Linked DNA regions of Homo sapiens. The protein of the gene in region 2 interacts with the protein of the main gene of each other region in a biochemical or structural test. Each region holds a gene or a part of one and is shown on either strand. Other genes may lie near its edges.

The links.
Region 1: the proteins of MAML1 (region 2) and CDK8 form a complex in vitro, tested with the Homo sapiens proteins (one study listed by BioGRID).
Region 3: the proteins of MAML1 (region 2) and NOTCH2 form a complex in vitro, tested with the Homo sapiens proteins (one study listed by BioGRID).

What each region holds. Positions count from the first base shown.
Region 1 is NC_000013.11:26,257,000-26,260,752, forward strand, and holds part of CDK8 (cyclin-dependent kinase 8), read left to right. Parts: intron 1-3,753.
Region 2 is NC_000005.10:179,770,779-179,774,531, forward strand, and holds part of MAML1 (mastermind-like protein 1), read left to right. Parts: intron 1-368; coding exon 369-465; intron 466-3,116; coding exon 3,117-3,753. UniProt on the Homo sapiens protein: Acts as a transcriptional coactivator for NOTCH proteins. Has been shown to amplify NOTCH-induced transcription of HES1. Enhances phosphorylation and proteolytic turnover of the NOTCH intracellular domain in the nucleus through interaction with CDK8.
Region 3 is NC_000001.11:120,063,033-120,066,785, reverse strand, and holds part of NOTCH2 (neurogenic locus notch homolog protein 2 isoform 1 preproprotein), read left to right. Parts: intron 1-3,753. UniProt on the Homo sapiens protein: Functions as a receptor for membrane-bound ligands Jagged-1 (JAG1), Jagged-2 (JAG2) and Delta-1 (DLL1) to regulate cell-fate determination.

The DNA.
Region 1 (3,753 bases), on a different chromosome or scaffold from region 2:
TCTTTTGATCTTATGTCAGTGAAATGTAATTTAATGCATTTTAGTCCTGGTAAAATAAAATTTGTGGCTGTTTAATCTTTCATAATAAGATGATGATCAAATAATTTGTTTCTAGTATTGATTTACTTTCAAATTACATTATATATTCTGCAGCTGAGATTTGTTCTCTAGGAACTCAGACAGTAACACCTTTAAGGAGAACCTGAGATTTTCTATAAAAGGAAGTAACGCAAATAAGCTTGGTTTAGACATATTTGACTATTGAAATGAATGTATGTAAACGTTGTATCCTTTCAGTTGCCCAGTGAGCATAGAACATGAATAATTGGTAAAATAATTTAGACCAGAGAAGTTAGCTGCTTAAATTATTAAGTTTTAGGAAATAAAATAGCTTCAAAGATTCATTTCTTTGACTTACTTGAGGCATGATTGCATAGTAGGGAAAAGGGACCTTTTATAACTTTGTTAATTTCACATTATAATAGAGTTTAAAGAAATGCACAATAAATCTTGGGATTAATTTGTTCTCACTCGTGTCGCCGTAAATGAGATAGTGTCCTTTGTGTCTGAACACTTAAAGAGTACTCAGTGGGAAGCAGGGGGGTTCATTTTCTTTCTGAGTTGATTGTATCTCCTCTTTGCAGAGTTTAGGCAACCAAACTAATTTTGTTTTAAAGAGTAAGAGAGCGTTAGAAGACAGAAAACAATTTGTGTTTTTAAATTCTAGACTTCAATATTTGCACTGAATGTTTGGATAATTTAAAATATCAATTTGGGATAAGAGGTTTTTCTTCAAAAAAGAAAAACAAAAGGCATTTTCTTAGCAGGGTTTTTAATCTGTTATAATCTATGTTCCAAAGAATAGATAATTATGAGTGAGGAATGAGTGTGTGTTTGTGTGTGTGTGTGTGTGTGTGTGTGTGAGAGAGAGAGAGATACTGCCAACTTTCTTTGGGGCACATTTGTTGAGAGCCCAGAGATTAGTAAGTAGGCAGTGATAATGGCAATAATAGCTAAATTACTGAGTAATTAAGTTTCAGGTCCTGGGCAAAGCACTTTACATTCATCATCTAGTTAGTCCTCACAAGAAGTATATCAAGTCAATTCTGTTATTTTTCAGTTTTCCAGTTGAGGAAACTGAGGCTTAGAAAGGTTAAGCAAATTTACCCATGAGTACACAGCTAATTAAATGTCAGCTAAGATTAGAGGATTAGGCGCAGGTTTTTCACTCCAGAGCCCATGCTCTTAACCATTATGCTTCCTATAATTAATATATTGAATAAGTAAAAAAATAGTTATGGAGTTTGATTTCTAGTGGGTTATTCAAAAACATAAATACCTTGTAGAACTATTAATATTTGCTTCAATAAACTGGTGTACTTTCTGGGTATATTGCTGAAGCACCCTTTTTTTCAAGTGCTATAAAACTGTTTATGTAGATATATGGGTGTGTCTGTACGTATATACACAAACATACTTGTGTATCTAGAGGGGTGTGTGTGTGTGTGTGTGTGTAGGACTAAACTCTAATGAAAGCCATGTGGAAGCACTTCATCTAGTGGAAAGAACTCTAGATGAGCGATCCTGGAAACCTGAATTTGAATTCAGACTGTGCTTCTGATAGCAGTATGACCTTGGGCAAGTCATTTGCCCTTATAGCTCTTAGTAGGGGGGTTTCAGCATATAATTTTTAGGGTCTTTTCTAGTATTATGATTTGAGGAAGTAAAAATTATGAACATAAAATGTAATATTTTTTGCAAGATTAGGCAAACAACCACTAAAAAATTTTACTTTAGATGATGGTGCATTTCCATATTTTTTAGTCTCATGCTTTAACGTTGGTTCTCATCAACTGCCAAAAAGCTTGGTAACTCCCAAAGACCTATCAGTTACTTAACCCAACATGTCTTACGCTACCTTGCCATTCCTCTGTATTTATCTCTTAAGATATTGAGGATTTATGGACTAGTGCCTGTTCCCACTCCCTTGAACCATTCAGTTGGTGGGCAGCACAAAGGAACTCTTCTGATTCAACCTGCATTGGAGCATCCCATTACCTTTTTCCCCTTCTGAATATGGCTGAATGCTGTATCTAAGTTCATTTTGATTTAAATATTTCTTTAGATGTCAGAAATGCCAAATACAATATGTAATTTCTATCACTGGAATAGTCATGTATACAATAAAGAGTATTCCTTATAACCTTCTAAAAATGTGACAGAAGAGGACAGTTAGTCCCCTGTGTCTGCAGGTCCTGCATCTGTAGATTCAAGCAACTGTGGTTCAAAAATTTTCGAGGGGGTAGGGGGAAGGATAGTTGCATCTCTACTGAGCATGTACAGATTTTTTTTCTTGTCATTATTTCCTTAAAAAATAGAGTATAACAACTGTTTACATAGCATTTACATTTTATTAGGTATTATAAGTAATCTAGAGATGATTTAAAGTGTGTGGGAGGATATGCGTAGGTTATATGCAAATAGGACACCATTTTATATTAGAAACTTGAGCATCTGTGGATTTTGGGGGACGGTCCTGGAACGCACCCCTTGTGGATACTGAGGGATGACTGTATTTGCTGTGTACTTCTTATTTCCATGTGGTTGAAGTTACCTACCTTAGATATCAGTGCATTCAGATCCGCTATTTAGGCCACGTTGAGATTTCATGCTTAAATTTCATTTTTTTAGTAGCAATACTGGAAAATCAATTCATTTGGGATTTGTTCATGTGAGTTATTACTTTTACTGTGTCTTTGAACATTTGAAGAAGTCAATTACTCATTCATTCAACAAGTATTTATTGGACCCTTCTATGTGCCAAGCACTGTCCAAGGTATTGGGAATGCAAAGACGAATGAAGTATTCCATTATTTGGGGAGATAACTACTGGGGAAACAAACATGTAAATGTTGCAATTCAATAAGCACTATAATAATTAATGCAAGGTATATGGCAACACAGAGAAGGAAGTCCCCAACTGGTTAAGGTTTTTAGGAAAAGCTTCAAAGTTTACAGTATTTGATTTGGATCATAGAAGACAGGGAAGGTCTCATCAGAAAAGACATTCCAACAGGAATAGGACAAAGGGATTTTTTTTAAAATTGTATTTTCTGCAGACCCCAGCAAATTTTGTGGGTTTTAATTTTTCCTTGCCATGCCTTTCTTTTCCCCTTGTTTTCCCTGGCCAGCATTTTTTGAGTTCTTGCTGTACGTGTAGTAGTATATATATGCACTACAAATGTTCCATTGTACCCGTTGGACATGGTGAGGTACTCATTATTTAACAGTGGAGATAAATTTATCAGCGTTTGCACCGAACACCATAATTGTGTGTGTGTCAGTTTTCAATCATGAGAACATTGGCCATTCAAGAAAAGCAGCCTCTGAAATCCAGGGGTCTGATTTAAGACTCTCTCATGTGTAAAACTGCCATGGCAGAACTCTGTTTTGCCTGGGGCTCTGGTTGGCAAATGATTCTGCTTTGGCCTCACCTCCATGAGGTGTAAGGAGTCAGAATTTCATATGCTGCTGAGGTGATGGATGGTAACAAATTGGAAGGGGAAAGAAGTTCTTTTGCTACTTAGAGTTTAGGAAGTAATGGAATTTCTCTTGTTGGGGCTCTGATGTGTGGAAAGATGAAAGGTAGGGACAGGGCTTCTGGCATGCTGAATTTCAGCTAGGAAAACAGAAATAATGAAAAATTATAATTATTATAGGCCATTTGCAAACGTAACTACTTTGACAATTAAT
Region 2 (3,753 bases):
CTCATTTTACATTCCCACCAGCGGTGTATGAGGGTGCTGATTTCTCTACATCCTCACCAACCACTTGTTATCATCTGACTTTGATTCTGGCCATCCTAGTGGGATCTCATTGTAGCTGTGATTTGCATTTTCCTAACCAGCTCTCCATTTTTTAAAAACAGGTATACCTACCTTTTAAAAAAGTCATTGCTCCCTAGATCTGTTTCATACTATTTAAAAACCCCAAAATGAAATCAGCACTATTTCCACAGGAGCCCATTTGTGAGTAACAAACTTGGATAAGTTACTTTTCTCTGACCTCCCTCACTCCCTTTGTTTTGGATTTTGTTATATGTTGGTTTTGTTTTGTTGTTCTTGGCATTTTCTAGGAGAAGCAACAGTTTCAGCGCCATCTGACCCGCCCACCACCCCAGTACCAAGACCCGACACAAGGCAGCTTCCCACAGCAGGTTGGACAGTTCACAGGTAGGGGGTGTCTGTGTGACGAGCAGGGACAGGGGAGGCCGCTGCCTGGTGCTGGTTGAATCCCTGCTGTCTGCCCAGCTCTATGCCTTGACTTCATCAGGCTGCATGCATTGTCATCATATACACCTCAGTTTGCCTAAGGGGCCTGGTTTTCTAGTTACTCCACGGCATCAGGAGAAGAGGGCACAGAGGCAAACCACTAGAACTACCTTTGCTGGGTCCCTGGCTGTACAGTTTTCTGAAGCAAAATCATTTCTAGTTGGAGGACATCTTATCAGCAGGAAATAGCTTCTGTAATTCTCAAGAAAGTTCTTTGCTTCTGCTTTTATGTGTCTTCAAAAAATGACTCCTATCTTCCAGATAAGGACTTAATGCACTTGCGTGGCCTTTGGCTTCTTTCTCTCCTCCTGTCTGCTCACTTGAATATCACAGATGGCAGCATCACTAGTGGACAGTTGGCCAGAAAAGGGCAGGAAGCACACTTGAGTCTAGCTGTCGCCTCTGAGATGTGCCAGGGAACTTCATAGGCCATCCCTCCAGAAATGCACAAAGATTTCAGGGAATGGATACAGGAAGCTCTGGTCTGCCCGCCTTCCTAGCTCCTCTCAGAATGTCTTAGAAACCTCTGTTTTTCCTTATTTGGGACCTTGCTATAAAGGGTCCCAGAGAGACTGACCACAGCTGTGTGTCCTGGAGGAGACCAGGTACGGTTTTATGTATGTGCTACCTGGGGTCAACGTGGGGTTGAAATCTGCAGGCATTTCAGAAGCATGGGTCTGACCCATGTTTTCTGCCTTCAGACCCATCTGACATTTTGTGGATTATTGATGGGAATGAAATAGCCGGTTTCAGCTCTCCTCTTTTCCTCAACCCAATTTCATTGTTGTTGTTTTGAAACAGAGTCTTGGTCTGTCGCCCAGGCTGCAGTGCAGTGGCACGATCTTGGCTCACTACAACCTCCACCTCCTAGGTTCAAGCGATTCTCCTGCCTCAGCCTCCCAAGCAGCTGGGATTACAGGCGCCTGCCACCACGCCCGGCTCATTTTTGTATTTTTAGTAGAGATGGGCTTTCACCATGTTAGCCAGGCTGATCTCACATACCTGACCTCGTGATCTGCCCGCCTTGGCCTCCCAAAGTGCTAGGATTACAGGTGTGAGCTACCGTGCCCGGCCCCAATTTTTATTATATGGTTGCTAGTAGAGAGGAAGAAGAACAAAGCACTGAGTTACGGCCAATCCCTGAACAATGACTCTCCTACCCACAAAACCTAATTCAGTTAATGGTGTTGTCATATGTCCATTGCTTAAGCCAGGAGGCCTAGACAGCAGTTCCCTGAGCATAGGGGTGCTTTCTCTTCCACCCTCTGCTGTCTCTCCAGCACAGCACCTGCCACAGAGTGGGTACTCAGTGAAGATCTGGTAATTTCCTGCGACTCCTCCCTCCTTTGGCCACCTTGTCATTTCATAGTATAAATGGTGTGCCATAAGATGGTATATTGTCTGGTGAGATGTTGTCACACAGTTCTGCACCTCCACCCCCCATTCCCACATGGTCTGCCCTCCCTCATCTCCGTGACTGAACAGCCTCTCCCCAGCATGGTCTCAGCCACACTCTCAGTCCAGCCACTCTTGGGCTTTACAACCCTGTTCTTTGTTTGTTTGTTTGAGACAGAGTCTTGCTCTTTCGCCTAGGCTGGAGTGCAGTGGCATGATCTCGGCTCACTGCAGCCTCCGCCTCCCGGATTCAAGCAATTCTCCTGCCTCAGCCTCCCGAGTAGCTGGGGGCGCGCGCCGCCACGCCTGGCTAATTTTTGTATTTTTAGTAGAGACAGGGTTTCACTATGTTGGCCAGGATGGTCTTGATCTCCTGACCTCGTGATTCGCCCGCCTCGGTCTCCCAAAGTGCTGGGATTACAGGCGTGAACCACCGCGCCCGGCCACAACCCCGTTCTTCACACGCCATCCACAGCTCTTCCCTATCTGGCCGGAACTAGCTCTTCCATTTTATCTCTAACCAGCTGGCCACTGTCTGCATATCCCGGCCACGGCCAGTCTCTGAAAGTTCCCCACACAGATGCCTTTTTCTGACTCTGCCTTTGCACACACTTGCCTGGAATGCTCTTTTTCCCCAAACTGTTAAATTGCTAAACTTCTGTGCTTTTAAACCTAGTGGATTCATCACTGTCTCTCTCAAGCCTTGCCCAAGGCTTCCCAGATGCCAGGGCTTCCAGCCTGCACCCTGCAGCCTGCTGGCCAGGCGCGCCCCATCGCGCCCCATTGCGCCCCATCGTGCCATGTGCTAACTTTGCCTCCCAGAGGCGGATCTTGCGTTGGGTCCACCTCAGAGTCCCCGGTGCCCACCACAGGGTCCCCACAGAGCAGAAATTTGGTGGGTGCTTGAAAGTTAGATGAAGTAGGTCACTGGTTTTCTCTCCCCTGGGGCTTTGCCCTTCCTCTGTGCCTTTCTGAACCCCATCATTGTTTCAGAGACCAGGCCTCCATTCCACCTGTGGAAGGCTTTCTGCCCCATGGCCCCCGGGGCCCTCTTCCCAGTGTGCCGTGAACGTGAGACTTCTGGTGCTGCGGCTCGAGTCTCAGAGGGACCCAGTGGTGGTCGACTCCTGACTGCCAGACTCTTCTCTGTCTTGTAGGGTCCTCTGCTGCCGTGCCCGGCATGAACACCTTGGGTCCATCCAACTCCAGCTGTCCTCGAGTGTTCCCTCAGGCTGGGAATCTGATGCCAATGGGCCCTGGACATGCTTCAGTTTCCTCTCTCCCCACAAACTCAGGCCAACAGGACCGGGGTGTGGCTCAGTTCCCTGGCTCCCAAAACATGCCTCAGAGCAGCCTCTATGGCATGGCTTCTGGCATAACCCAGATAGTTGCCCAGCCCCCGCCACAGGCCACCAATGGACATGCCCACATTCCACGGCAGACCAACGTGGGCCAGAACACCTCCGTCTCAGCTGCCTATGGGCAGAACTCTCTGGGAAGCTCTGGCCTCTCCCAGCAGCACAATAAGGGGACCCTGAACCCTGGTTTAACAAAGCCACCGGTCCCAAGGGTGTCACCAGCCATGGGAGGCCAGAATTCCTCCTGGCAGCATCAGGGAATGCCGAACCTCAGTGGCCAGACCCCAGGGAACAGCAACGTGAGTCCCTTCACTGCAGCCTCCAGTTTCCACATGCAGCAGCAGGCCCACCTGAAAATGTCTAGCCCGCAATTCTCCCAGGCAGTGCCCAACAGGCCCATGGCTCCCATGAGCTCAGCAGCTGCCGTGGGGTCCTT
Region 3 (3,753 bases), on a different chromosome or scaffold from region 2:
TCTCTTATTTTTCTGAATGTTTAGATTTAAAAAATATTTACCCATAACTTCTTGGGATCTCTCTGCTCCATTCCCACCCTACTGCCTCTCCTGTAGGCTTCTATGACATAGAGGAGCAACTTTTGGTTCACCTGGATTGTAGTTGCTGACTTCAGGACCTTTAGAGAATGTTTAAATTCAGTGGGATATGCTTGGATGGTTCAGAGCAGCCTTACAATACATCTTAAAAATATCACACCCACAGAAATTCTATTTTGCCCACAAAATTTGCATTGATCTAGTTCCCACTCTGTGTTGCCATTCCTAGTGATCCTCCTCCCTACCTCTCCCATTATGGTAGAAAAAACTCTGTGTCCTGGCTACATCAAAATCTGTTGGGGTGGATCTTGGACTCAGCACCCAGGGATTCTGATAAGGTAAGTTTGAGAATCCATATTTTTTCAAGGTTTACAGGTGATTCTGACAAGTAACTTGGTTGCAACCCACTGATTAAGTACATTTTTTTTTACCTTCAGGTGTGTGTATGAGGTCTTTCTAAATTTAAGAAATTTCCATAACAAATGTAACCTTAGTCATTCCAGTGTTTAACGCTTCTGACTCAAGGAATTTAAAAATTGCTAACGTAAGAGATATAGAATATAATGTCATTTCTTCTATTTATCTGGGTGCAATATGTCTGCATTGACCCTTTAGAAGGGCTTCATATATTTAGATGATATAATAAATTCTCCACCTCTCCTTTTCCCTTTTCTTCTGTTATCTCTTTTTCCTTAAATGTCATTCATACATGTTGTTTTTTGACCCTTTATCTATATACGTCTGCAATGATTTTAGAGTAAAAAACTGCAAGGCGTGATTTGAATAAGGATATAAGAAATTTTACATCATTTTCTTTATATTGTGTTCACAGTCCATAGTTACATGCTTCCTTTCTTGATGTCTCAGTTCGAATGCCTAAATTTGAACTATTGATTTTCCTTCCACCCTTTCCTGATTTTCCTGTTTTTGTTTCTCCCCCTTTCTCTGCAAATGACTTGAAACCAAAAGGTCTTCTTTTCTTTCTTTGTCAGCCTACCGTATGTGTAGTATTTTGGACAGATCACTGAACTAGGAGCCAGAAGACCAGAATTCTTCTCCAGGTCTGTTATTAATTGGTTTGGTGACCTTGTAGGAGAGCCACTGTTTCCGTCCTCCATTTTCTGATGTTCATTGTTCATGGTCACAGAGCCAATTAGAGTTGAGACTAGAATTCCTTTCTTCTGGTGTCCAGTGCCTCATTCACTGTCCTCATTGCTTCCATCTCGTGTACAAATGCGCTTATGTGCACAAAAACTCTTATAACATCCTCAAGTGCTTATTGTTAATGCGTACATGAGGAAGGAATCGTGTATTTTCATTTATGTGTTTATTCTAATGCCCATACCCTACCCCTGTACCTGGCATGATGCCTTGGTATCTAATAGGCACACAATAAATACTTGTTCAGTCGAACAATTATTTTTAGCCATTTTCTTATTTTGGACAACTGTGGTACTCCTAGACATTTTAAAAACAGTATTTGCAGGAGTCATGCTTACCTTACATTTGGGGAAAAACCAAATTTTTCCCTTCCCCAGATGTTTCATTTTAACTTGTAATTTTGAATTTCTTTGTGTGTGGGGTTTCTTTCTTTCTTTTTCTGATCACTTCTGCAATTTATAAAGGTCACTTTGACTTTGGAATCTCACTTCAAAGGCACTGCCATCCACCCCCTGCCTCTCACTCAAGTTTGCTTCCACTGCTTCCTGTATTACTGTATTACTAGGCCAGCAATTTCTGTTATTTTGTCCAGAATAGCCACACCTTATTGTAATTTCATCATTTTGGGGACTAGTCATTTTTGGAATACTATTTTTAAAATTAGAGTTAACTAAGTTTATATTTATTTTGATAATTTTTTTTGAGATTTTTTTCATTGAGTTGGATATTGCAAACTTGTACTGGATTGAGAGAATATGTACATTTAGTAAAGTATATTTGCTTTTTTTTTTTTTTGAACCAAGAGAGTCCCCTGAACACCCTACTGACAAAAACTAAAGATGAAATATGATGAATAAATATTTGAGAGAATCACATGGTGTTGAGTTGTCTCTGCCACATGATTTTGATCCTTGAGGGCCAGGTCTGTGCTACACACATTTCTTCTCTGTACTACAGAACTTGTCTGGCATGTGCCCCAAATTCAGAGTCAACTGAGCAGCAGGTCTTAGTCACAGCATCTATGACTCCTGCTTTCCCACCTTTAGAACATTCTATAGGAGAGGCTGATGGTGAGTTGGAGTGTGTTTCTATGTTCTTTTTTCCTTTGAAGAGATAGGATCAGTTGAAAGCTGACCCCACCCACAGACTTTTTTTGCTATCTCTTTTAATTAATTAAGGAGTGGCTGAAATTTTCCTCTTTGTTGACTTATGCATTGGCGGGAACTTTAAAATTCATCTAGTCTTTCTGTCCATCCCATGCTGGATCTGATGTTTACAACATTCTAGTCAAGAGGTACCATATTTTCTCTCTTCTTGAACATCTCTTGTGGTAGACAGCTCTCCACAGCAGTTTATTCCATCTTTGGCCAGCTCTAATTCTTAGAAAGATCTTCTTATATTCAGCTGTAATCCGTCTCCTCATGACTTGTCCTCATTGACATCTACTCAGAAATTTGTCTCAGAGTCCTGAGACCTGTGCAGGTGATAGGGACCCAAAGAGATGCTTGTCTGTAGACTTTACTGAGCTGACACCCAGCTCTCCATAAAAGGAGTCAAACCCAGTGAGGAGCATGTCTGAGGTGATTGCTCAGGTAAAGCATCTTAGCCCTACTTGTTTCATACCTCCCTGCACAGGTGGGCACTGGTGGGAGAATAACATTTATCAAGCAGTGTTTCCCTAACCTCTCTTATGATAAGAATAGCTCAGGTGTTCTCATGGAGATTCTGATTCAGTGCATCTGGAGTGTCATCTGGGAATTTGTGTGTTCAAGAAATAGCCAGGTGATTCTTACATTAGGAAAGTTTTAGAATCACTGCAGAGTGAATCTGGGAAATCAAAGTGTTTTTGTTTGTTTGTTTTTTGAGAGTATTAGAGACAGGTTGCTTTGGCTAGATCCTGTGGTCATTTTTCCCCCTTGGAAATGCCTCCTACTTGCTGGCCTCACTTAGTACAGAGAAGAAAGCTGCTATGGTATAAGGTTAGTAAAGTTGTTTTGTCTTAAAAGAAATTTGCGAAATCCAGCATTTTCAGACTTCTGTTTGTGTTGTATGACTTTGTTGTAAGCCTCCTTATTCCTCCATTAGAATGTTACCTGAGATGTTAGAATGCATAGGAGTTCCACAGCCTTTTTGGTGTCCACTAAAGAATTCTGTCCTCAGCCGTTGCAAATGGTGCTTCCTTTGAGGATTTCTGCTTCATTAGCTCATGAACACATATTTGGTGTCGGCAGTTTCCCTCAGATGTGTTAGTGTGGAGAGATATAAAGGTCACTCATTTCTGGCAGTCCTGCTTTTGGGGTTTCTGGGCTGCTGCAGCAAATGAAATAAGGAAAGGAAAATAAAGGAGGAATCTAGGGCTTCTTGAGCAGAACAAAACAATCTGCAAGAAGGGGCACAGGATTGCTCCTCTCACAAAGACACTTGATAATACTGTCCTTGATAGGAAGAAGGAAGTGGCTTCAGATCTGAAAGGATATGCTCATAGGCTTGAGACGGGACAAACTGCATCACTGG